3 linked regions of the Homo sapiens genome follow. The protein of the gene in region 1 interacts with the protein of each later gene in a biochemical or structural test. Each region holds a gene or a part of one and is shown in the gene's direction. Other genes may lie near its edges.

Region 1 (7,025 bases):
GGGGAGTGCTGCTGAGGACGGGGTGTCTAGGGACAGGGTGGGGCAGCCCCCCTCCTGGATAGAATCGCCTCATTGTGGGCTGGACTGTGGCCCCAGGCACTGCCCCCACCCTCTGCCCCCATCCCACCCTCAGTAGACACAATAGGGGCTGTGTACTAGTCCCAAAGAGATATTTATTCCAGGACCTAGAGAGAGGCAGGATGAGGGTAGAGAAGTGAGTGCCCTAGTTGGAGGGGGAGAGGAGGGTAATCAAAGTTGCGGCCTTTTCCTAACTTCTCTTTTCTAGGGAGAGAAACAAATTCCCTGTCTTCCTTCTCAGTTAACCCCTTAGTACCCAAAAGAAGCACAGAGGGGTCCCAGGTTGAAAAAGGAAATCTTTTCACCTTCCCATTCATGGAATGGTAAGGGGATTCTGAGAAGAGAGAAAGCTCTCAGGCCACTACAGCTTCTGCCTATCGCTTGTGGGAGGGTTGGAGGCAAATGCCATCTGATCCTGTCTAATGTAACTGGAAGAGGGCAACCAAGGGGGTGATCTTTGGGGATGGCAGATGGGCTGAGAATTTGTGTCCAGCCCTCAGCCACTCTTCCCTCTGCTTTGAACAGTGTGTCCTGGGACTCTGAATGGCCTGAGTGTGACCGGCGATGCTGAGAACCAATACCAGACACTGTACAAGCTCTACGAGAGGTGTGAGGTGGTGATGGGGAACCTTGAGATTGTGCTCACGGGACACAATGCCGACCTCTCCTTCCTGCAGGTTAGTGAGCCCACCCTCCTTCCTCAACCTGCTCCTCTTTATTCTCCCCTAGAACCCTCCTTCCTTCTTCAGGGCTACCTTCTGCTGGAGTTCACCCTTCCTAAGACTCAGGAGTTCCTAAGATTCAAAACCGTGTATTTATGGGGACAGTGGCTGTCATCTGGGACCTATGGTCTCACTGTTGTAGCCAGGGATATATAGGGGGCAGGGTCAGGGGCAGGTGGTGTTCTGTGGATAGTGCAAGGTCAGCAGGGACTAGTGCAGAGAGAAACCTGAGGACCAAGAGGTTACCTGGGGAGATGAGGAAGGGGCCCTACTGGTATGAGGCACTTTGAGGAGAAAGCTGCCTGTCTTCACTCCCAGAAGTGACACAGCAGTGTGACACAGTCTACTCCCTACTCCCAAATAGGAATTAGCAAGAGTTAAGGCCAGGTGCAGTGGCTCATGCCTGTAATCCCAGCACTTTGGGAGGCCAAGGAAGGCAGATCACTTGAGGTCAGGAGTTCAAGACCAGCCTGGGCAATGTGGTGAAACGCTGTCTCTACAAAAATACAAAAATTAGCTGGGTATGGTGGCATGCACCTGTAGTCCCAGCTACTTGGAGGGCTGAGGTGGGAGGATTGCTTGAGCCCAGGAGTTTGACGCTGCAGTGAGCGAGATTGTGCCACTCGTAACAGAGCGAGACCCTGTCTCACCAAAAAAAAAAAAAAAGGCCAAGCTCGGATCACCTGAGGTCAGGAGTTCGAGACCAGCCTGACCAACATGGAAAAACCACATCTCTACTAAAAATACAAAATTAGCCAGGTGTAGTGGCACATGCCTGTAATCCCAGCTACTTGGGAGGCTGCGGCAGGAGAATTGCTTGAACCCGGGAGGTGGAGGTTGTGGTGAGCCAAGATCGCACTATTGTACTCCAGCCTGGGCAACAAGAGCGTAACTCCGTCTCAAATTTTAAAAAAAAGAAAAAAAGAAAGGAAAGAAAGAAGGAAGAATTAAAACAGTTAAAGAGTCTTTAATGCCTGAAGGAGGAGAGGAGATTGAGATTATTTTGCCCTGTTGTCTCTCTCATTTACATAATCTGCTCTGTCACAGTGGATTCGAGAAGTGACAGGCTATGTCCTCGTGGCCATGAATGAATTCTCTACTCTACCATTGCCCAACCTCCGCGTGGTGCGAGGGACCCAGGTCTACGATGGGAAGTTTGCCATCTTCGTCATGTTGAACTATAACACCAACTCCAGCCACGCTCTGCGCCAGCTCCGCTTGACTCAGCTCACCGGTCAGTTCCCGATGGTTCCTTCTGGCCTCACCCCTCAGCCAGCCCAAGACTGGTACCTCCTTGATGATGACCCAAGACTGCTCACTCTAAGTGCCTCTTCCAAGGTGCCTGTCACCTTGGCCGCTGTCTAAAGGTCCATTGCTCCCTAAGCAATAGAGGGCCCCCAGTAGGGGGAGCTAGGGGCATCTGCTCCAGGGAAAGGAACCCTGTGTCCTTGTGGGGCTGGAGTCAGAGCTGGATCTGTTAACCGTTTTTCTAATTTCAAAGTACAGTGTACCGGAGGCCAGGCCTGATGGCTTACACCTGTAATCCCAGCATTTTGGGAGGCCAAGGAGGGCAGATCACTTGAGATCAGGAGTTTGAGACCAGCCTGGCCAACATGGCGAAACCCTGTCTCTACTAAAAATACAAAAAAATAAAATAAAATAAAAAATTAGCTGGCTATAGTGGTGCGCACCTGTAATCCCAGCTGTTCATGAGGCTGAGGCAGGAGACTCGCTTGAACCTGGGAGGTGGAGGTTGCAGTGAGCTGAGATTGCACCACTGCACTCTAGCGTAAGTGACAGTGAGACTCCGTCTCAAAAAAAAAAAAAAAAAAAAAAAAAAGCCTGGGCGCGGTGGCTCACGCCTGTAATCCCAGCACTTTGGGAGGCCAAGGCAGGTGGATCACAAGGTCAGGAGATCGAGACCATCCTGGCTAACACGGTGAAACCCCGTCTCTACTAAAAATACAAAAAATTAGCCAGGTGTGGTGGCGGGCGCCTGTAGTCCGAGCTACTCGGGAGGCTGAGGCAGGAGAATGGCGTGAACCCGGGAGGCGGAGCTTGCAGTGAGCCAAGATTGCACCACTGCACTCCAGCCTGGGCGACAGAGCGAGACTCCAAAAAAAAAAAAAAAAAAAAAAACCAAAGTACAGTATACCTGGATGTCCCTCCTTCCCTAGGAATTCTACCTTTACTCTCCTAAACCAAACCCCTATGAGCTGGAGGAATATAGGGGTTAAAAACCACCTGTCCATCTTCTGCTTCTCCATGTCCCAGTCAGTTGGAAAACATATGGGCAGGGCTTGGGGGAGGGAATGTTGAGTCAGAAATCTCTCCCTCTCTCCCTTCCCCTCCCCCACTAGCTAAACCGGATCTGGACAGGTGACTGAGGAGGCAGGAGTTTCTTTTGGCCTGACTCCTCATCTTATAAAGGGAGTCTTCTCTGCAGCTTAGATTTAATTGGACCTATCTGTCTGCCTCATTCTCCCACTCCTGAGTCTCAGGTGTCCTTTTGGATGGGTGGAGAGGTAAGGAAGAGGCGTTCCGCTGCGGCCCTTAACCCTGTCACTTCTTTCCCTACCTCAGAGATTCTGTCAGGGGGTGTTTATATTGAGAAGAACGATAAGCTTTGTCACATGGACACAATTGACTGGAGGGACATCGTGAGGGACCGAGATGCTGAGATAGTGGTGAAGGACAATGGCAGAAGCTGTAAGTGGCCGTGATCAAGATTGCTCCCCAGTCCCACCAAACCAGAGTGACTCCCTTCTTTCCATCATCCTTACATTCCTGATCTGAACCCGCCTCCCCAGTGAACAAACACCTCAGGTCCCTGACTCAGCAGCCCACCAGGGCAGACCATTCCAGTCTCCTGGAATCTAAACCACAGAGGAGGTGTTTCAAGAAAAGGAGCAGGCCGAGCATGGTGGCTCATGCCTATAATCCTGGCACTTTGGGAAGCCAAGGTGGGAGGATCGCTTGAGCCCAGGAGTCCAAGACCAGCCTGAGTAACATAGCAAAAAATCTACAAAAAATTAAAAAAATCAGACAGGCGTAGTGGCTCGCACCTGTAATCCCGGCTACTCAGGAGGCTGAGGCAGAGGATTGCTTGAGCCCAGGAGGCTGCAGCTGCAGTGAGCTGTGATTGTGCCATTGTACTCTAGCCTGGGCAACAGAGTGAGACCCTGTCTCAAAAAAAAAAAAAAAAAATCCCTGAGTACTAAGCAGGGAAGCCAGATCTTTAGACTCCACATCTGTTACTCGTTCCACTAGAATATACTCCCATTTCCTTGGAGCCCACCTTCCCCTGACCATTCACATGCATATATTCCTGCATATATTCAGTTTGCCCAGGAGGAACTAAGTTCCTGGGTTGGGACTAGGACTAAGGTTGGCATTTGCCCCAGTCCCTCCCCTTCAGCTGCCCAGTGGGTGGTGTGGAGGCGTGGCCGCGCCCCTTGTTGACAGGTCCACTTGAGCCCAGCCCTGCTCTCCAAGGGCAGGGAGGGACACAGCCCTGGCTTTTTGCTTCCCGGGATTGAGGTGCCTGTGTACTGACATCATACCCCGTTGATTAAAACAAGCCTTTCTTAGCCCTGATGGCCCCTTGTGTTGCCTTCCTTCCCAACCAGGTCCCCCCTGTCATGAGGTTTGCAAGGGGCGATGCTGGGGTCCTGGATCAGAAGACTGCCAGACATGTGGGTTTGAAATTCCCTCCAAAAACTTCACTCATACGCTTTCATATCCCTTCCTCCCCAAGCCTGGGTCAACACTGTGGGGGAGGCATGAGCAGTGGCCTCAGAATTCAGTCCTAGGAGCCCTAACAGCCATGCTTTCTCTCCTTCCATAGTGACCAAGACCATCTGTGCTCCTCAGTGTAATGGTCACTGCTTTGGGCCCAACCCCAACCAGTGCTGCCATGATGAGTGTGCCGGGGGCTGCTCAGGCCCTCAGGACACAGACTGCTTTGTATGTACCCTTTCCATTGCCTGGGTTCTGAAATTGGGATGTGGCCTTTGAGGAGGAGGTAGGGGTACACACGTAACATAAATCTGATGAGCCTCCTTTTTTCCCAGGCCTGCCGGCACTTCAATGACAGTGGAGCCTGTGTACCTCGCTGTCCACAGCCTCTTGTCTACAACAAGCTAACTTTCCAGCTGGAACCCAATCCCCACACCAAGTATCAGTATGGAGGAGTTTGTGTAGCCAGCTGTCCCCGTAAGTGTCTGAGGGGAAGGAACAATGATCAACAATAGTAGATCCAAGATTTTAGACAAAATTGTGGAAGGGAAAAAGAATCCAGTTGGTGATAAATAGGGAGATTGGTGAATGGTTATGATCATCTAACCACTCCAGTGAGTGACCCTTACGTCCAGTCCTCCCATGACTTCAGCTATCACCCTTACTTCTGCTCCTTGTAGCAACAAATAGTGAAGAGACTTTTGAATCTATAGGGCAGCACTTAAGGGATCTAGGGTGGCAGATGGGGACAAATCCAGTGCAGAGCTGGAGGGAGCCTAGGCCCAGAGCAAGGGTTCCATTGGTAGCTGGTGATGTTCCTCCCTCATCTCTAATGGTGTCCTCCTCCTCTTCCCTAGATAACTTTGTGGTGGATCAAACATCCTGTGTCAGGGCCTGTCCTCCTGACAAGATGGAAGTAGATAAAAATGGGCTCAAGATGTGTGAGCCTTGTGGGGGACTATGTCCCAAAGGTGGGTAGGAGATGGTAAGAAGTTGTAAAGAGACAGCCTTTCCTCTGAGCCTGCGCAGACCACCCCCACTGAACCTCTCTTACATTTGCAGCCTGTGAGGGAACAGGCTCTGGGAGCCGCTTCCAGACTGTGGACTCGAGCAACATTGATGGATTTGTGAACTGCACCAAGATCCTGGGCAACCTGGACTTTCTGATCACCGGCCTCAATGGGTTAGAGATCCTGCCTTCCCTCCTTAGACCCCAGCCCACGCACCCCTCACAGTTCATTTCATTGGCCAAAACTTTCCTATGTGGAGCTGACTAGGAATCAAAGTCATAAAATTCTAGCCTGTTACAAAGGACCTGAAAGAATGCTTAACACATCCTCCATCCAGGCCTTCGGTCCCCTCAGGAACATCTTTGAGCAATTCAATATCGCCCTGCCAAGGAACAAGGGACAGGAACAACATATCCTCCTTCTTAAAGTTTTCTTTTTTATTCTTTTTTCTTTTTTGAGATAGGGTCTTGCTCTGTCACCTAGGCTGGAGTGCAGTGGCGTGATCTCGACTCACTGTAGCCTCGACCTCCTGGGCTCAAGTGATCCCAAGTAGCTGGGACTATAGGCACACACCATCATACTTGACTAATTTTTTTGTATTTTTTTGTAGAGACAGGGTCTTGCTATGTTGCCCAGGCTGATCTCGAACTCCTGTGCTCAAGCAATCCTCCCATCTTGGCCTCCCAAAGTGCTAGGGATCACAGCACCCAACCTCCTTCTTAAAGTTTTGTAAAAGTTCTTCCTTAGATTTGGATAAAAATCTGTCTCCAGGCTGGGCCCGGTGGCTCATGCCTATAATCCCAGCACTTTGGGAGGCCGAGGTGGGCGGATTACGAGGTCAGATCGAGACCATCCTGGCTAACATGGTGAAATGCCATCTCTACTAAAAACACAAAAATTAGCTGGGTGTGGTGGTGCACATGCCTGTAATCCCAGCTACTCAGGAGGCTGAGGCACGAGAATCACTTGAACCCAGGAGGCGGAAATTGCAGTGAACCGAGATTACACCACCGCACTCCAGCCTGGCGACAGAGCGAGACTCTTTCTCAAAAAAAAAAAAGAAAAGAAAAGAAAATTCTGTCTCCCCATGACTTTTAGCTGTTTTCACTCATTCTGCTCCTTGGAGCAAAAAGAACAAAGGGACTTTCTAGTCTATAGGACAGCATTTAAAATGTGTGTGTGTGTGTAAAAAAAACCCACTATGACCACCTGTTTTTTTTTTTCCTTTAATTTTTTATTTTGACATAATTTTAGATCTACACTAAAGTTGCAAGAATGGTATAAAATTCCCCATATACTTTTTTTTTTTTTTTAAGACAAAGTCTCACTCTGTTCCCCAGGCTAGAGTGCAGTGGTGCAATCTTGGCTCACTGCAACCTCCGCCTCCTCTGCCTCCCGGGTTCAAGCAATTCTCCTGCCTCAGTCTCCTGAGTAGCTGGAATTATAGGTGTGTGCCATCATGCCCGGCTAATTTTTG
Region 2 (7,025 bases), on another chromosome or scaffold:
TAGTTTTCCATTACTTTTACGATAAAATCCAAACCCCATAGTAATGACACAGAACGAAGGCCATACCTTATATTTGAAGTGCTCTTTTTTCTTTTTTCACTACTTTTCTTCTTAGCTACACCTCTAGATCTCGTCCGCTCAAGGGTTACCTGTTTAAAGTGGAGTTTTCACCTCCACAGGCTGAATTAGATATTATTTCTCTGTACTCGAATAGCATTCACCACTGTTAACAGCACTTACCAGTGCTGAAACATAATTGATTTCTTGCCTTCTTGACTAAACTGACCTCTATGCAACTCAAAGAACACATCTCAATCATCTCTGTACTCTCTACCTATCAGAGTTTAGTGCACCGTAGACACTCAGTAAATAAACAACTAAATATTGAATTTGTGATGTTACTGAAAACTCCTTTAATGAAAAGCATTTAACACCATAGGGAAGACTGAACACCAGGAAAATTTACTTGCATGACTAATTATCGTGTTCTCTTTTTAAACAATAATTGCTTGTTTTTCTTCCCAAGTATTTATGCGCTGCCAGTTGAGCCGATTACAGAAAGGGCATGCCACAGATGAATGGTTTCTGCTCAGCTCCCATATACCATTAAAAGGTATTGAACCAGGGTCCCTGCGTGTTCGAGCACGATACTCTATGGAAAAAATCATGCCAGAAGAAGAGTACAGTGAATTTAAAGAGGTATTAAATTATTTATCAGTCTTGTTTTTGTTGGAATTAACAGAAACATTTAACATTTAATAAAAGATCCATTAAGGTAAACATAGTAATTCATAGCTTAGTAGCACAATGATGCCAGAGATTTTAAACCTTGTTTTATACTGTAATTTTGGTAGAAATAAGTAGACTACGAATTCATTCTATTTTAAATAAATTTATTCAATGGGACATCATTTTAAATATAAGAACTTGTGAAAGAACATATTTCTTGTTAGTCTCATGGAGCATGCTTATAATGCTACGTACTTTAAACAATCTTTTAAAATGTCATTTTAGCTTATACTGCAAAAGGAACTTCATGTAGTCTATGCTTTATCACATGTATGTGGACAAGACCGAACACTACTGGCCAGCATCCTACTGAGGATTTTTCTTCACGAAAAGCTTGAATCGTTGTTGTTATGCACACTAAATGACAGAGAAATAAGCATGGAAGGTATGGTATGGCCATGTTAGTGTGATACAAGAAACTGGGTTTAGATTTTATATCAAGGATATATGGACTCTATCTCTGAATATACTAAATTGTTAAATTATATTGCAAAATAAGTTATTCTGTTTTCCCTCCTTAAAAATTGCAGTTGGATGTCAGTTCTGATTATGTTGGTTACTATGGGAAGCTGATATTTCTAATGTAGGTTTTGGCAGATAAGTACTAGAAGCCACAAGAAGGTGGTATCTGTGTCTACATCAATGGCTTGACTGTTTGGCATATTTATCTGTATTCTCTTGTTTTTTATTTTCTTTTGAGATGGCATCTCAGTCGCCCAGGCTGCAGTGCAGTGGCGCAGTCTCGGCTCACTGCAACCTCTACCTCTCAGGTTCAAGCGATTCTCCTGCCTCAGCCTCCTAAGTAGCTGGGACTACAGGCATATGCCACCACACCCAGCTAATTTTTTATTTTATTTTTTTAGTAGAGACGGGTTTTCACCATGTTGGCCAGGCTGGTCTTGAACTCCTGACTTCAGGTGATCCGCCTGCCTCAAGCCTCCCAAAGTGCCGGGGTTACAGGTCTTGTTTAATTTTTACTTCTTCATTACACAGAAGCTGGGTGTCAGCTGCATTTTATTTCTAACTTTTATAGATAGGTAGTTCCCAAGCTGCTGGACACAGTGCTTTTAATGGCTTACAAAATAATCCACCCTCCCCCTGGCCCACACACACCACCAAGCACTTTGATTCATTAACAGTTCTTGCTTCTAGGTTCCCCAAATAAATAGTAAAGTTTAGAACTATTTTCCTCCTCATCACAAAATATAGATTTGTCAAGGAATAGATAAAATGGTGGTCCTTATTTTACACTTGAGTTTATCTTTTCTGACAGCATTTGTATTTCATTAAAATTTTACTGAAACTCAGTAGACATATTTTAAGCTAATAAATTAATCTATACTGGGATTTTGTGTTATATCCTTAATTGTAAATAAACCCTAAAATTTCAAAGCATGGGGTCAATGGGCAGCAAAGCTGATTTATGGTCCTAATTTTATCATTAGCTGTCTAATTGATCTTAAGTCATATAACAATTCTGAGTCTTCATTTTTCCATATGAACATGGCAGTGTTAATCCCTTCTGTTCATGATCTAATGAGGTAATACATATGAAAGTCTTACAGAGTTAAGTCTGTAGAAGTATAGGATGTCATTGTAATTAGTACTTTCAACGCTGCACGCAAAAAGCACATTTAAGTGGCTATTCCTGTTGAGGTAAAATGAATTCACTTAATTTCCAATTTGGTCACATTAGGTCAGTCCTTTACAAATAATCTTCTAATGTAAATATTTGTGTAGATGAAGCCACTACCCTATTTCGAGCCACAACACTTGCAAGCACCTTGATGGAGCAGTATATGAAAGCCACTGCTACACAGTTTGTTCATCATGCTTTGAAAGACTCTATTTTAAAGATAATGGAAAGCAAGCAGTCTTGTGAGGTAAGAATTTAATGTTTTAATAAGTATTTTTGCAAAGAACATATTTTAATAGGTAATAATTTGTAGCCAATTACATTTTAAGGAAAATATATTAAATTTCTAAAATTATTCCTCATAGCAGTTACACCTGTCTGTAATACATTTATAAAAATGTTCTGCAAAATGGACTTCTTAAAAAAGATGTACTTTATTTTGGGATTAAAAACCATCAAGTTGCACCAGAAATTCATGAAAATACTTTGTCATTTCCTCTACTGTACTAATAATCTATATACTACTTACAGAAAGCGTGCATAAGATAAATTGAAGGTTTTGTTAGTGACTCATTATATAACCTATGTAGCACTTCATTACATCTTGGTTTGTTCTTGAAGGTTTTTTTGCGAGGGGAGAATTATGAGATAACCTCAACTAAAACAAAAAAATCTTTTTAGGATTATTAAAGTTTCAGTATAAATTCATAATACACTATTAAGACAGTAAGTGGAATCTCACACACATATTCTCTCATTTTAATGGTAAAGCAACTACAAAGAAATAATATATATTAGATCTGATATAAAAATCAGTTTAAGGAATTGTTTTTGACAATGGACACTGGGACCTAGCAAATGTTAATCCTGCACGAAGGTGTCGATTCATACTAATAACTTGAAGGGAAGAAATTAGTGATTTAATGTTGGAAATGTGGGGTAATGCCATAGTTGGCCTAACATAAGGATGACACAGAAGTGCAGCAGGTAGGTAGGGAGTCTCTGGACTTTAGAGATAGGCTACGGAATTCCGACTTCCATAGATAAATGTACTCTGCTGACACTAGATCAGAAGGGTTACAGGAAAAGTTCTGAGAAAGGTTTGTGATTCTGCCTAAGGCATTTGATATTTTTATTAGCCATTAAATAAGCCTCATTCAGAAAAGCTTTTAATCAGCTTTTTTTCCCCTCAAATAAATAGAATTGACTAAGCACTGTTTGCTTTTCAGTTGGCTAATTGGGAATAAATGGTAACAGACCTACCAGGAGGAGTTCCATAGAGAAAACTACTTAAAAACTCCCATTATACAAAGAAAAAAGATCAATACACACAGAGATACCGAAAAATAGACAACCTCGAAAACTATAACTACTTGTTTTCCTCTATTCATTTGCATTTGTCATTGCCAACATGCATTTATATTGATTTATTCCTTCTTTTAGTTAAGTCCATCAAAGTTAGAAAAAAATGAAGATGTGAACACTAATTTAACACACCTATTGAACATACTTTCAGAGCTTGTGGAGAAAATATTCATGGCTTCAGAAATACTTCCACCGTAAGTGGTGAAATTTTCATTTGACAAGAAATTGTGTATCTATGTCTTCAGAAATTTCTATTTCTAAAACGTGAAAGCTTTTCTGTTGTCCTAATATTATTATACTCTGAAAAAGTCATGGTTAATCTTTATGAGATGAATTGTATTTAAAGAAAATAGCTGTCTTAATAAAACCACCCATTATTTTCGTACAAGCCAATATGTCTGGTTTGTACTGTAGTAGCTTGGGGAGTGAATAGAGGTTTATAGTTTCAGATTTGAGATTGTAAAAGATATCTTGTCTATCCATTTAGTCTATACTTGATAGACTAATCACTCTGTTAATATGCTTGTCGGCCTCCAGTATTAGTGAACTCACTTGTTCAGGTAGAAGTTAACTTAAGTCTAAATCTTGCTCCCCAGAATTTGCAGCTGGTTGGTTCTCTATATCTGAAAGTAAATGTCAGGAAGTTGACTGAATAAATTGATGATAAACTTAGTGGATAAAGTTTTCCTTACCCCTTGCTAAATGCCTCATTACCTGTGGCAAAATACTTTTTTGGGTAAAAGGCCAGTTTTATTGAACTGTGGTATATTTGGGTAAATTAAGCTTTTGGCTGCTAGGAGATCAGTGTTTTCACTTGCTTTCTGTGTTGAGATGATTGTGTTATTTTGGCAGGACATTGAGATATATTTATGGGTGTTTACAGAAATCTGTTCAGCATAAGTGGCCTACAAATACCACCATGAGAACAAGAGTTGTTAGGTAAGGCTCATCAATTGATTTGTTAAATCACATACTAATAGGTGGATAATTGTGAAAAATTGAGGAATAACAATATACAATTCAATGCTTTTTTCTTTGGCTTTTATGTCAAAGCCCTGTTGCATATTTTCTAAGTCCAGATGGCTCCTAAACTGAAAGTTACTGTGAGATTTAGCTGCCGTTTGCATTTTCTAAAAACATGAACATTCATTTATAGTCAAGTATTGGGGATTTTTAAACCCTTACAAGATGAGGCTAAAAGTTATATAACAAAATCTGTAGCTAACTTCATATAGTATTCTTCATACATACACACACATTGATTGGCAGTGAGAGAGAAGGGCAGTAATTGACCGATTTAGATATTAATTGGTTTGTTACAATCTGTGACTCTGAGCTAATCAGAACCAGAACATGTAGTTCTGAAGCTGTGTTTCAGTCTGCTCATTGTACCATAATTAGGAAGAACTGCTTTGGCAAATCATGGAATTTGGGAGCTTATATAAAGGGACTTCATTATCATTATTCTATAGGAAGAACTGCTTTGGCAAATCATGGAATTTGGGAGCTTACGTAAGGTTACTTCATTATCATTATTCTAACTTATTTTTCCAATGAAGAAGCAGATCTGTCTGGAGAGGTTAAGTTGAACTAAGGTTTTATAGAAAGCTGGTGGCTAAGGCAGAACTAAAGGTAACTTTCTAAGACCCAATCTGATATCCTTGAGTCTTATTGTAGGCTTTTGCTTTTGTTAAGCATACTCCAACTAATACCCCAACTAATTCCAGGCAAATGGAAGTTTAATGCGAAAGCGTCATGGAATACAGCAGTTTTCTAATAATATAATTTGTTATTTAGAATATACACTGTCATGTCATGCTATATGTAAAATAATTAGGCAACCATTAACACCATTATTACACAGTTTGTTTTGAAAATGTGTTAATCCTGCCTCCAACCTAAATTTTGTCAAGGGGCTTCTATTTCTTTTTTTGGGGGGCAGGTAATATTTCTCTTGGTTATGATATGACATAATATTTAAGAACTACAGATTCTGTTTTTCTTGGCATTAGTGGTGATTGGGAGGAATAGAAAAGAATTACAAGCATAATATTCCAGCACAGTTACGTGTGAGATGTAAATTAAAACTGTTCTATAAATTTGTAAGTTTCAAACAAGTATAACTGTTAAGCAAACACAGCAGGAAATTGTAAACTGTTTCGTGCAAGAGGGTGTTTTAGGGCATTTTTGCCAAGGTTAGGTTTCAGGCTCATAGACCTACTATGTATAATTATCACAATATTTTCAAGTAAAGTTTACAAGATTCTTTAAATTTGGGAAGTCCAAAATTAAAGACTTAATTGTTATTTTTTTGAGACAGGGTCTTGCTCTGTTGCCCATGCTGGAGTGCAGTGGTGTGATTTCGGCTTACTGCAACCCCCGCCTCCCAGGTTCAAGTGAGATTCTTGTGCTTCATCCACCCAAGTAGCTGGATTACAGGCATGCACCACCATACCTGGCTATTTTTGTATTTTTAGTAGAGATGGGGTTAGACCATGTTGGCCAGGCTGGTCTTGAACTCCTGGCCTCAGGTGGTACACCCACCTCGGCCTCCCAAAGTGTTGGATTACAGGCATGAGCCACCATGCCCAGCCAATATATTAGAATTTCTATAAATGCTGTTTGAGAAGTAACATCTTTACTTTCTAAGAGTCCAAAAATTAGCAAACAGGTACATGTTCAAAGGTAAATGCTAAGAAATTGGGTAATCCACTCTAACAGAGAACAGAGATTGTATCTATTAATCTATAGAAGGAATTGCGTAACTCATTATTTTGGGAATAATGCTTGTCTTTACATGGATTATGTCTATCAATCTGTAGAAGGAATTGCATAATTCATTATTTTAGGAATAATGCTTGTCTTTACATGGGGCAAGTAAGAGGTTAATTATTAGTGTGGATTCTTCTTAAAAGGAAATTAGAAATTATCTACATGACAACATATCCTCCCTACCAGTGACTAAAGGAGGCAGAATAGGAGTATCTATGCAAGCTTTTAACACTGACATTGTCCCAAAGTAAAATTAGCAGATAAAATCATATATGACAGCTGTTAGTATAATTTTTGCTTTTGCTATTGTTTTATAATTTGACAACTTTTTAAAACTTTAGAATTCCTAATGTCTTGTCTTAAAAGTTTTTCAGGCTGGGCATGGTGGCTCAAGCCTGTAATCTCAACATGTTTAGACCAAGACAGGAGGATTGCTTGAGGCCAGGAATTTGAAATTGTCCTG
Region 3 (6,901 bases), on another chromosome or scaffold:
GGTGTGGCCAGCAGGGCTGGGGACGCAGGGAGGCGTCGGAGTTGGGGTGGCCACACAGCTCACGCTCTCCCTCCCAGTGCGGGACACGCAGGCTGTGCGGCACTACAAGATCTGGCGGCGTGCCGGGGGCCGGCTGCACCTGAACGAGGCGGTGTCCTTCCTCAGCCTGCCCGAGCTTGTGAACTACCACAGGGCCCAGAGCCTGTCCCACGGCCTGCGGCTGGCCGCGCCCTGCCGGAAGGTAGCCGCTCCGCCCTGACTTGGTCACGCGGGGTCAGGCTGGGGGGTCACAGGCTGGCATTTCCTACTGGGAGAGGTTGGCCGGGCAGCATGGGAGGGGTCCTGACTCACTGACCTGGGGCCCACTGGAGGGAAGCCCATGGTTCTGCAGAGCACAGGTGTTTGCCTGAGTTGGGGGTGGGGCCAGGAGACCATCCCCGGGCCTGGCCACTCTCGGAGAGGCCAGCGGCACTCTGCAGGGTCCTGGCTCCGGTCTGTCTGGGTGTTTCATGCTGGGCTGGGGGCAGCCCCCAGGAGAGTCCACCCTTGTGTCAGACACTCAGAAACCCCCAACCCAGGCTGATCGTGGCCCTAAATCTGAGGCTAAATCCAGGCTCCCTGTGCTGGCTTCAGACTGGCACTTCCTGAAGGATGAGCCCCTGCCCTGTGTCCCCGACTCTTCCTCCAGCACGAGCCTGAGCCCCTGCCCCATTGGGATGACTGGGAGAGGCCGAGGGAGGAGTTCACGCTCTGCAGGAAGCTGGGGTCCGGCTACTTTGGGGAGGTCTTCGAGGGGCTCTGGAAAGACCGGGTCCAGGTGGCCATTAAGGTGATTTCTCGAGGTGAGTGGGCCCCGATCAGGGCTCTGTGTGGCCCCGTGCCTGCCCTGGGCCACCCTCCCACCCCGCCAACAGGGACCTCTGGCCTCGAGCCCCAAGCAGCACCCACAGCGTCCATGCGAGAGTGGTTCCCTTTCAATTGCACCTATGTTTTTACCTAAATACATTTATTATAAAAGAAAATTTTAGGCCGGGCACGGTGGCTCACATCTGTAATCCCCACACTTTGGGAAGCCAAGGTGGGCGGATCACGAGGTCAGGAGTTTGAGACCAGCCTGGCCAACATGGGGAAACCACGTCTCTACTAAAAATACAAAAATTAGCCGAGTGTGGAGGCATGTGCCTGTAGTCCCAGCTACTCGGGAGGCTGAGGCAGGAGAATCGCTTCAACCCAGGAGGCGGAGATTGCAGTGAGCTGAGATCGCGCCATTGCACTCCAGCCTGGGCGACAGAGCAAGACCCCGTCTTGGGAAAAAAAAAAAAGAAAGAAAGAAAGAAAATTTAAAATCCTTGACGTAATGGAAAGCCATTAAAATAGATCACTGGAAATGGGTAAAACTTCCCTGGAACCCGTCTGGGCCCCAGCAGAGGTCTGGCCTCTATGTCAGAGGTCTGGGCCGGGCACAGGAAGAAATCGGGTGGCCACCACAGCCCCGTGGGTACGCCAGGCTGGGGCCCTGTGGGGCCGGCTGCATCTGCCATTTCGTGGCCTCGGGAGCCAGGTGCCCTGTCGGGGGCAGGAGGTCTGTGTGTCCTGCACAGCTGCTGGGTGTGATGGCTGCTGTGTGTGGGGGCAGGGCCTTGGCCTCTTCCTTGGGGCCTGGGGGGTCAGGGGCTGCATCCACCGAGGCCACCCGTCCCCGCAGACAACCTCCTGCACCAGCAGATGCTGCAGTCGGAGATCCAGGCCATGAAGAAGCTGCGGCACAAACACATCCTGGCGCTGTACGCCGTGGTGTCCGTGGGGGACCCCGTGTACATCATCACGGAGCTCATGGCCAAGGGCAGCCTGCTGGAGCTGCTCCGCGGTGAGTGGCATGGGCCGGGGCTCTTGCTGGAGGCAGCGGGGGCACGTGAGGAAATAAAGTGCACACCCCCCCCCCACGTCTACACACACACACACGTAGACACACAGACACACAGACACACACATGCACACACAGACACAGACACAGACACACAGAGACACACACGCACAGACACACATGCACACACACATGCACACAGACATACACATGCACACACAGACACACACACAAGACACATCACATGACACACACAGACATACACATAGACACAGACACACACACAGAGACACACAAAACAGATCACACGGACACACACAGACACACACACAGATCACACGGACACACACAGACACACACACACACAGACACACACTGATCCAGACACACACACAGACACACACAGATCACATTGGCTCAAAGACTTCATCCTCTCTAAGTTCCATTATTTCCTTTCTCACCAAAACCAAAGACAATCGCTGCCAGGGAATGGAGATGCCCGTGCGTGAAGGCGCAGTTTGGATTCCGATGTTAGAATGGGAGGGAACGTTGTGGTATAGGAAAAATGCCGTGTGTGTCTGAGGAGAGCTACACTGAGGCACCACGCACGTTTGCGCTCTGAGCGAAAGGCTCCGTACCCCTCGCCCTCACACAAAGGGCTTGATCATCTCAGACAGTCCCCACGCCCTTCAGGGTCCTCCGGGAGGGAATGTGGGGTAAAACAGGCACCACCAGGCCGCAAGCCGCTGACAGCCATTCTCCTGTTCGAGTTCCCACTGCCTACATCACGCAGTCATGAGCCTCTTCGCTGGTCCTTCTGCGTCCAGCTCCTCCCGCGTCATCACAAACTTCCAGAAGGGAAATCGCTGGGCTAGACCACTAGGAACTGCTCCTTGGTTCTTTTTTTTTTTTTTGAGACGGAGTCTCACTCTGTCGCCCAGGCTGGAGTGCAATGGCGCAGTCTCGGCTCACTGTAACCTCCACCTCCTGGGTTCAAATGATTCTCCTGCCTCAGCCACCTGAGTAGCTGAGATTACAGGCACCTGTCACCACGCCCAGCTAATTATATATATATATATATATATATATATTTTTTTTTTTTTTTTTTGAGACGGAGTCTGGCTCTGTCGCCCAGGCTGGAGTGCAGTGGCGTGATCTCGGCTCACTGCAAGCTCCGCCTCCCGGGTTCACGCCATTCTCCTGCCTCAGCCTCCCGAGTAGCTGGGACTACAGGCGCCCGCCACCACGCCCGGCTAATTTTTTGTATTTTTAGTAGAGATGGGGTTTCACCGTGTTAGCCAGGATGGTCTCGATCTCCTGACCTCGTGATCCATCCGCCTCAGCCTCTCAAAGTGCTGGGATTACAGGCGTGAGCCACCACGCCCAGCTTGCTCCTTGGTTCGTGATAAACAGTTGCCTTCCAGAAGGGCGGTAGCTGGCCTGCAGTTCCAATTTTCAATCAGGCCAGCTGCCCTTTGCCCCGGCCCCTCCTCTGAGCCCGCAGAGCTTGGAGGCAGATGAGACATGGCCCAGCCTCCCCAACCCTTCCCCACCTCAGCTGGCTCAGCTGACCCCAGGCTCTGCTCCACTCCCCTCTGCAGACTCTGATGAGAAAGTCCTGCCCGTTTCGGAGCTGCTGGACATCGCCTGGCAGGTGGCTGAGGGCATGTGTTACCTGGAGTCGCAGAATTACATCCACCGGGACCTGGCCGCCAGGAACATCCTCGTCGGGGAAAACACCCTCTGCAAAGTTGGGGACTTCGGGTTAGCCAGGCTTATCAAGGTAGGGCCCTCAGAGGGCGTGGCTGGGGTCGTGGCCGGGGCGTGGCCGGAGGGCTGGGGGCTTCCTGTGTGTGGAGCTGGGGACTCGGCTGGGAGCAGGATGCGGCCCCTGCCCTCGGGAGCCCAGGCTGGGCAGGGAGGTGGGAAGCCACCGTGAGTCCGGTGGGGCCCCCATTCTGAATGGCACGCACAGCAGGGCCCACCACGCAGCCGCTGCCTTGTTCACGTGCCTTGTTCACTGGCCCAGCCCTGGGCCCCTCTGACGGCCTGGGAGCCTCCCAGTTCCCTGTCCCCCGGGCCCTCCGGTCCCCACACACCTGCAATCCCAGGGGAAGTTGGGCTCCTGAAGGTGGTCAGGCCCCAGTGTGGCCTTAGCTGCAGCGGCCGTGCGTGGGTCAGACAGTGGGGTCATCACCGTCCCACTGCTGGGGCAATGCGGCCGCTGTGCCCGTCCATGCTTCGGGGGCAGGGCACAGGCAGCCCCCACGGCCCACTCAGCTCCAGGCTGATTGCAGGAGGACGTCTACCTCTCCCATGACCACAATATCCCCTACAAGTGGACGGCCCCTGAAGCGCTCTCCCGAGGCCATTACTCCACCAAATCCGACGTCTGGTCCTTTGGGATTCTCCTGCATGAGATGTTCAGCAGGGGTCAGGTGCCCTACCCAGGTACTGTCCCCACTGTCCCTGACTGGGCATGAGAGGCAGAGTGGGGGAGGTCCTGGGTAGCCGGCAGGGACGCTGGGGGGTGCCTCCCCCACGGGCTTCAGGGCCCTCCGCGGGCCATCGCCTGAACTCCACACCTGCACCATTCTCTGAGCACCCAGGCTGGTGCCTGGAGCTGCCTGTTGGAGCCCTGTCCAGAGGGAGGTGTTAGCAGTGGACAGTGTGCTGGGTGGCGCCAAGGCATGGCAGCTGAGGCTGCGGGGAAGGCCCCAGGAAGGGGCAGTGGATGGCTGGTGTGGCTTCTTGGGGGAGGGTAGGCAGGTGGGCCCCAGCTCTTCTCATCCCTGTCGGCCGCAGGCATGTCCAACCATGAGGCCTTCCTGAGGGTGGACGCCGGCTACCGCATGCCCTGCCCTCTGGAGTGCCCGCCCAGCGTGCACAAGCTGATGCTGACATGCTGGTGCAGGGACCCCGAGCAGAGACCCTGCTTCAAGGCCCTGCGGGAGAGGCTCTCCAGCTTCACCAGCTACGAGAACCCGACCTGAGCTGCTGTGGAGCGGGCATGGCCGGGCCCTGCTGAGGAGGGGCCTGGGCAGAGGGCCTGGACCTGGGATCAAGGCCCACGCGCTTCCCTGGGGTTTACTGAGGTGATGGGTGCAGGAAAGGTTCACAAATGTGGAGTGTCTGCGTCCAATACACGCGTGTGCTCCTCTCCTTACTCCATCGTGTGTGCCTTGGGTCTCAGCTGCTGACACGCAGCCTGCTCTGGAGCCTGCAGATGAGATCCGGGAGACTGACACGAAGCCAGCAGAGGTCAGAGGGGACTCTGACCACAGCCCGCTCTCTGGCTGTCTGTCTGCAGTGCCCGGCTGAGGGTGGGAGGCAAACACGCCTTGTTCCTGCTCTTCCCAGTTCAGCTTGGTGGGAGAAAGTCATTCGCGTGGCTCGGGACGCTCATGTAAATTTGGTTTTGGTGCTCAAGGGTTCTTTCCTCCCAGGGGCAGGTGTTTCTTTCCTGTTTGTCTTGTGTCTTGAGAGCTTGGCCTTATGACCAGTGAGAACTCTCTCCCTGGTCTCTGCCAGCCCAAGCATCACTGCCCGAGGCGCCAGCTCAGTTTCACCGTCCACGTCCACAAGGGGCTTTTCCCACCTTCACCTTTGTCGCTGGGTCAGTGCTGGAAAGCGCCCCTCACTCCTGCGCTGACAAGGGCCCTTCTCTACTGTCTGTGGGGTGGTTCCGGGCTGGGGGGGCTGCCTCCTTTGCACCTGATTTTGAAGGTGTCTCTTTCATCCATGGTTAAGTCATAAAAAGCTTATTGGTTTTGGTTTTGACTCACCTGAAAGTTTTTTTGGTTTAAAAGAAGAATAGGCGGGGCACGGTGGCTCATGCCTGTAATCCCAGCACTTTGGGAGGCTGAGGCAGGTGGATCACGAGGTCAGGAGATCGACACCATCCTGGCTAACACGGTGAAACCCCGTCTCTACTAAAAAATACAAAAAATTAGCTGGGTGTGGTGGTGGGGGTGGGCGCCTGTAGTCCCAGCTACGTGGGAGGCTGAGGCAGCAGACTGGTGTGAACCCGGGAGGTGGAGCTTGCAGTGAGCCGAGATCGCGCCACTGCACTCCAGCCTGGGCGACAGAGCGAGACTCCATCTCAAAAAAAAAAAAAAAAAAAAGAAAGAAAGAAAAATAATTTTGGGAGTTTCTGGAAAGGTACTAGGATTTCTCAAAAGGATTTGTCTTCTGCCTTGTGAAAGACAGATGTCAGACTAATCAGGCTTATCCGATGTGCTACATGAGATGGAAAGCGTGTGAAATAGTAAGTCACACTAAGTCTTCTGGAGGTTCTATTTACGGGTTTGGTTTTGATATGAATGTTGCAGAAACTCTATAAAATTCCTAGAAATCTGATACGTTATCCTATGATATATATCCTATCTCACATGCTATTCCTAGAAATCTGGTGCAATGTTATCAGTCATAATTTTGGTTATTACATTAAAATGCTGCATGCCACAGAAATAACCAAGTTTCCTTGCCAACCGTGTCACGAATATAATAAACTCTCATCAGATCCTGAGCCATGGCTATCTTAAGTCTTCGGTCATTCACAGTTATTATCTTACTTTGATTTTTTCTGAAAGCTTTGCAATCAGCTAGTCCCAAATTGTTTATTCTTCAAAGAGATTCCTGGGAAGGATTCTGACAGGTGCTCTGGAGCACAGGTTTCTGGTTCAGGTCATAGCCTTGGATTGGGTGCAAATTTCCAGAACTCGAAGGAGGGACCTGGCAGGTCCATGAAAGTTCTGTCCCAGGATCAACCAGAACAAGAATTAATGACATGGGAATGAATGAACTGACGAGGATGTTTACTGTTTAATGACTTTTGTCTGAAGCATTACGGTTCTTTAATATTTTGTTTTCCAGATGTAAGAAAACGTTTTTTGTTTCTGTTTTTGTTTTTGAAGACAGGGTCTTGCTCTGTCACCCAGGCTGGAGCGCAGTGGCGTGACCACAGCTCATTGCAGCCTTGAATTCCCAGGCTCAAGTGATCCTCCCGCCTCAGCCTCCTGAATAGTTGGGACTACA

The links.
Region 2: the proteins of ERBB3 (region 1) and RASA1 form a complex in vitro, tested with the Homo sapiens proteins (2 studies listed by BioGRID and IntAct, with this or other methods).
Region 3: the proteins of ERBB3 (region 1) and PTK6 form a complex in vitro, tested with the Homo sapiens proteins (2 studies listed by BioGRID and IntAct, with this or other methods).

The regions. Positions count from the first base shown.
Region 1 is NC_000012.12:56,083,148-56,090,172, forward strand, and holds part of ERBB3 (receptor tyrosine-protein kinase erbB-3 isoform 1 precursor), read left to right. Parts: intron 1-166; exon of another isoform or gene 167-401; intron 402-603; coding exon 604-755; intron 756-1,847; coding exon 1,848-2,034; coding exon of another isoform or gene 2,035-2,165; exon of another isoform or gene 2,166-2,470; intron 2,471-3,383; coding exon 3,384-3,509; intron 3,510-4,429; coding exon 4,430-4,495; intron 4,496-4,647; coding exon 4,648-4,766; intron 4,767-4,873; coding exon 4,874-5,015; intron 5,016-5,395; coding exon 5,396-5,509; intron 5,510-5,600; coding exon 5,601-5,721; intron 5,722-7,025. UniProt on the Homo sapiens protein: Tyrosine-protein kinase that plays an essential role as cell surface receptor for neuregulins.
Region 2 is NC_000005.10:87,375,867-87,382,891, forward strand, and holds part of RASA1 (ras GTPase-activating protein 1), read left to right. Parts: intron 1-526; coding exon 527-699; intron 700-1,014; coding exon 1,015-1,174; intron 1,175-2,529; coding exon 2,530-2,672; intron 2,673-3,868; coding exon 3,869-3,984; intron 3,985-4,642; coding exon 4,643-4,729; intron 4,730-7,025. UniProt on the Homo sapiens protein: Inhibitory regulator of the Ras-cyclic AMP pathway. Stimulates the GTPase of normal but not oncogenic Ras p21; this stimulation may be further increased in the presence of NCK1.
Region 3 is NC_000020.11:63,527,492-63,534,392, reverse strand, and holds the end of PTK6 (protein-tyrosine kinase 6), read left to right. Parts: intron 1-77; coding exon 78-241; intron 242-688; coding exon 689-842; intron 843-1,705; coding exon 1,706-1,867; intron 1,868-3,465; coding exon 3,466-3,647; intron 3,648-4,161; coding exon 4,162-4,315; intron 4,316-4,669; coding exon 4,670-4,857; 3' UTR 4,858-6,392; downstream 6,393-6,901. UniProt on the Homo sapiens protein: Non-receptor tyrosine-protein kinase implicated in the regulation of a variety of signaling pathways that control the differentiation and maintenance of normal epithelia, as well as tumor growth.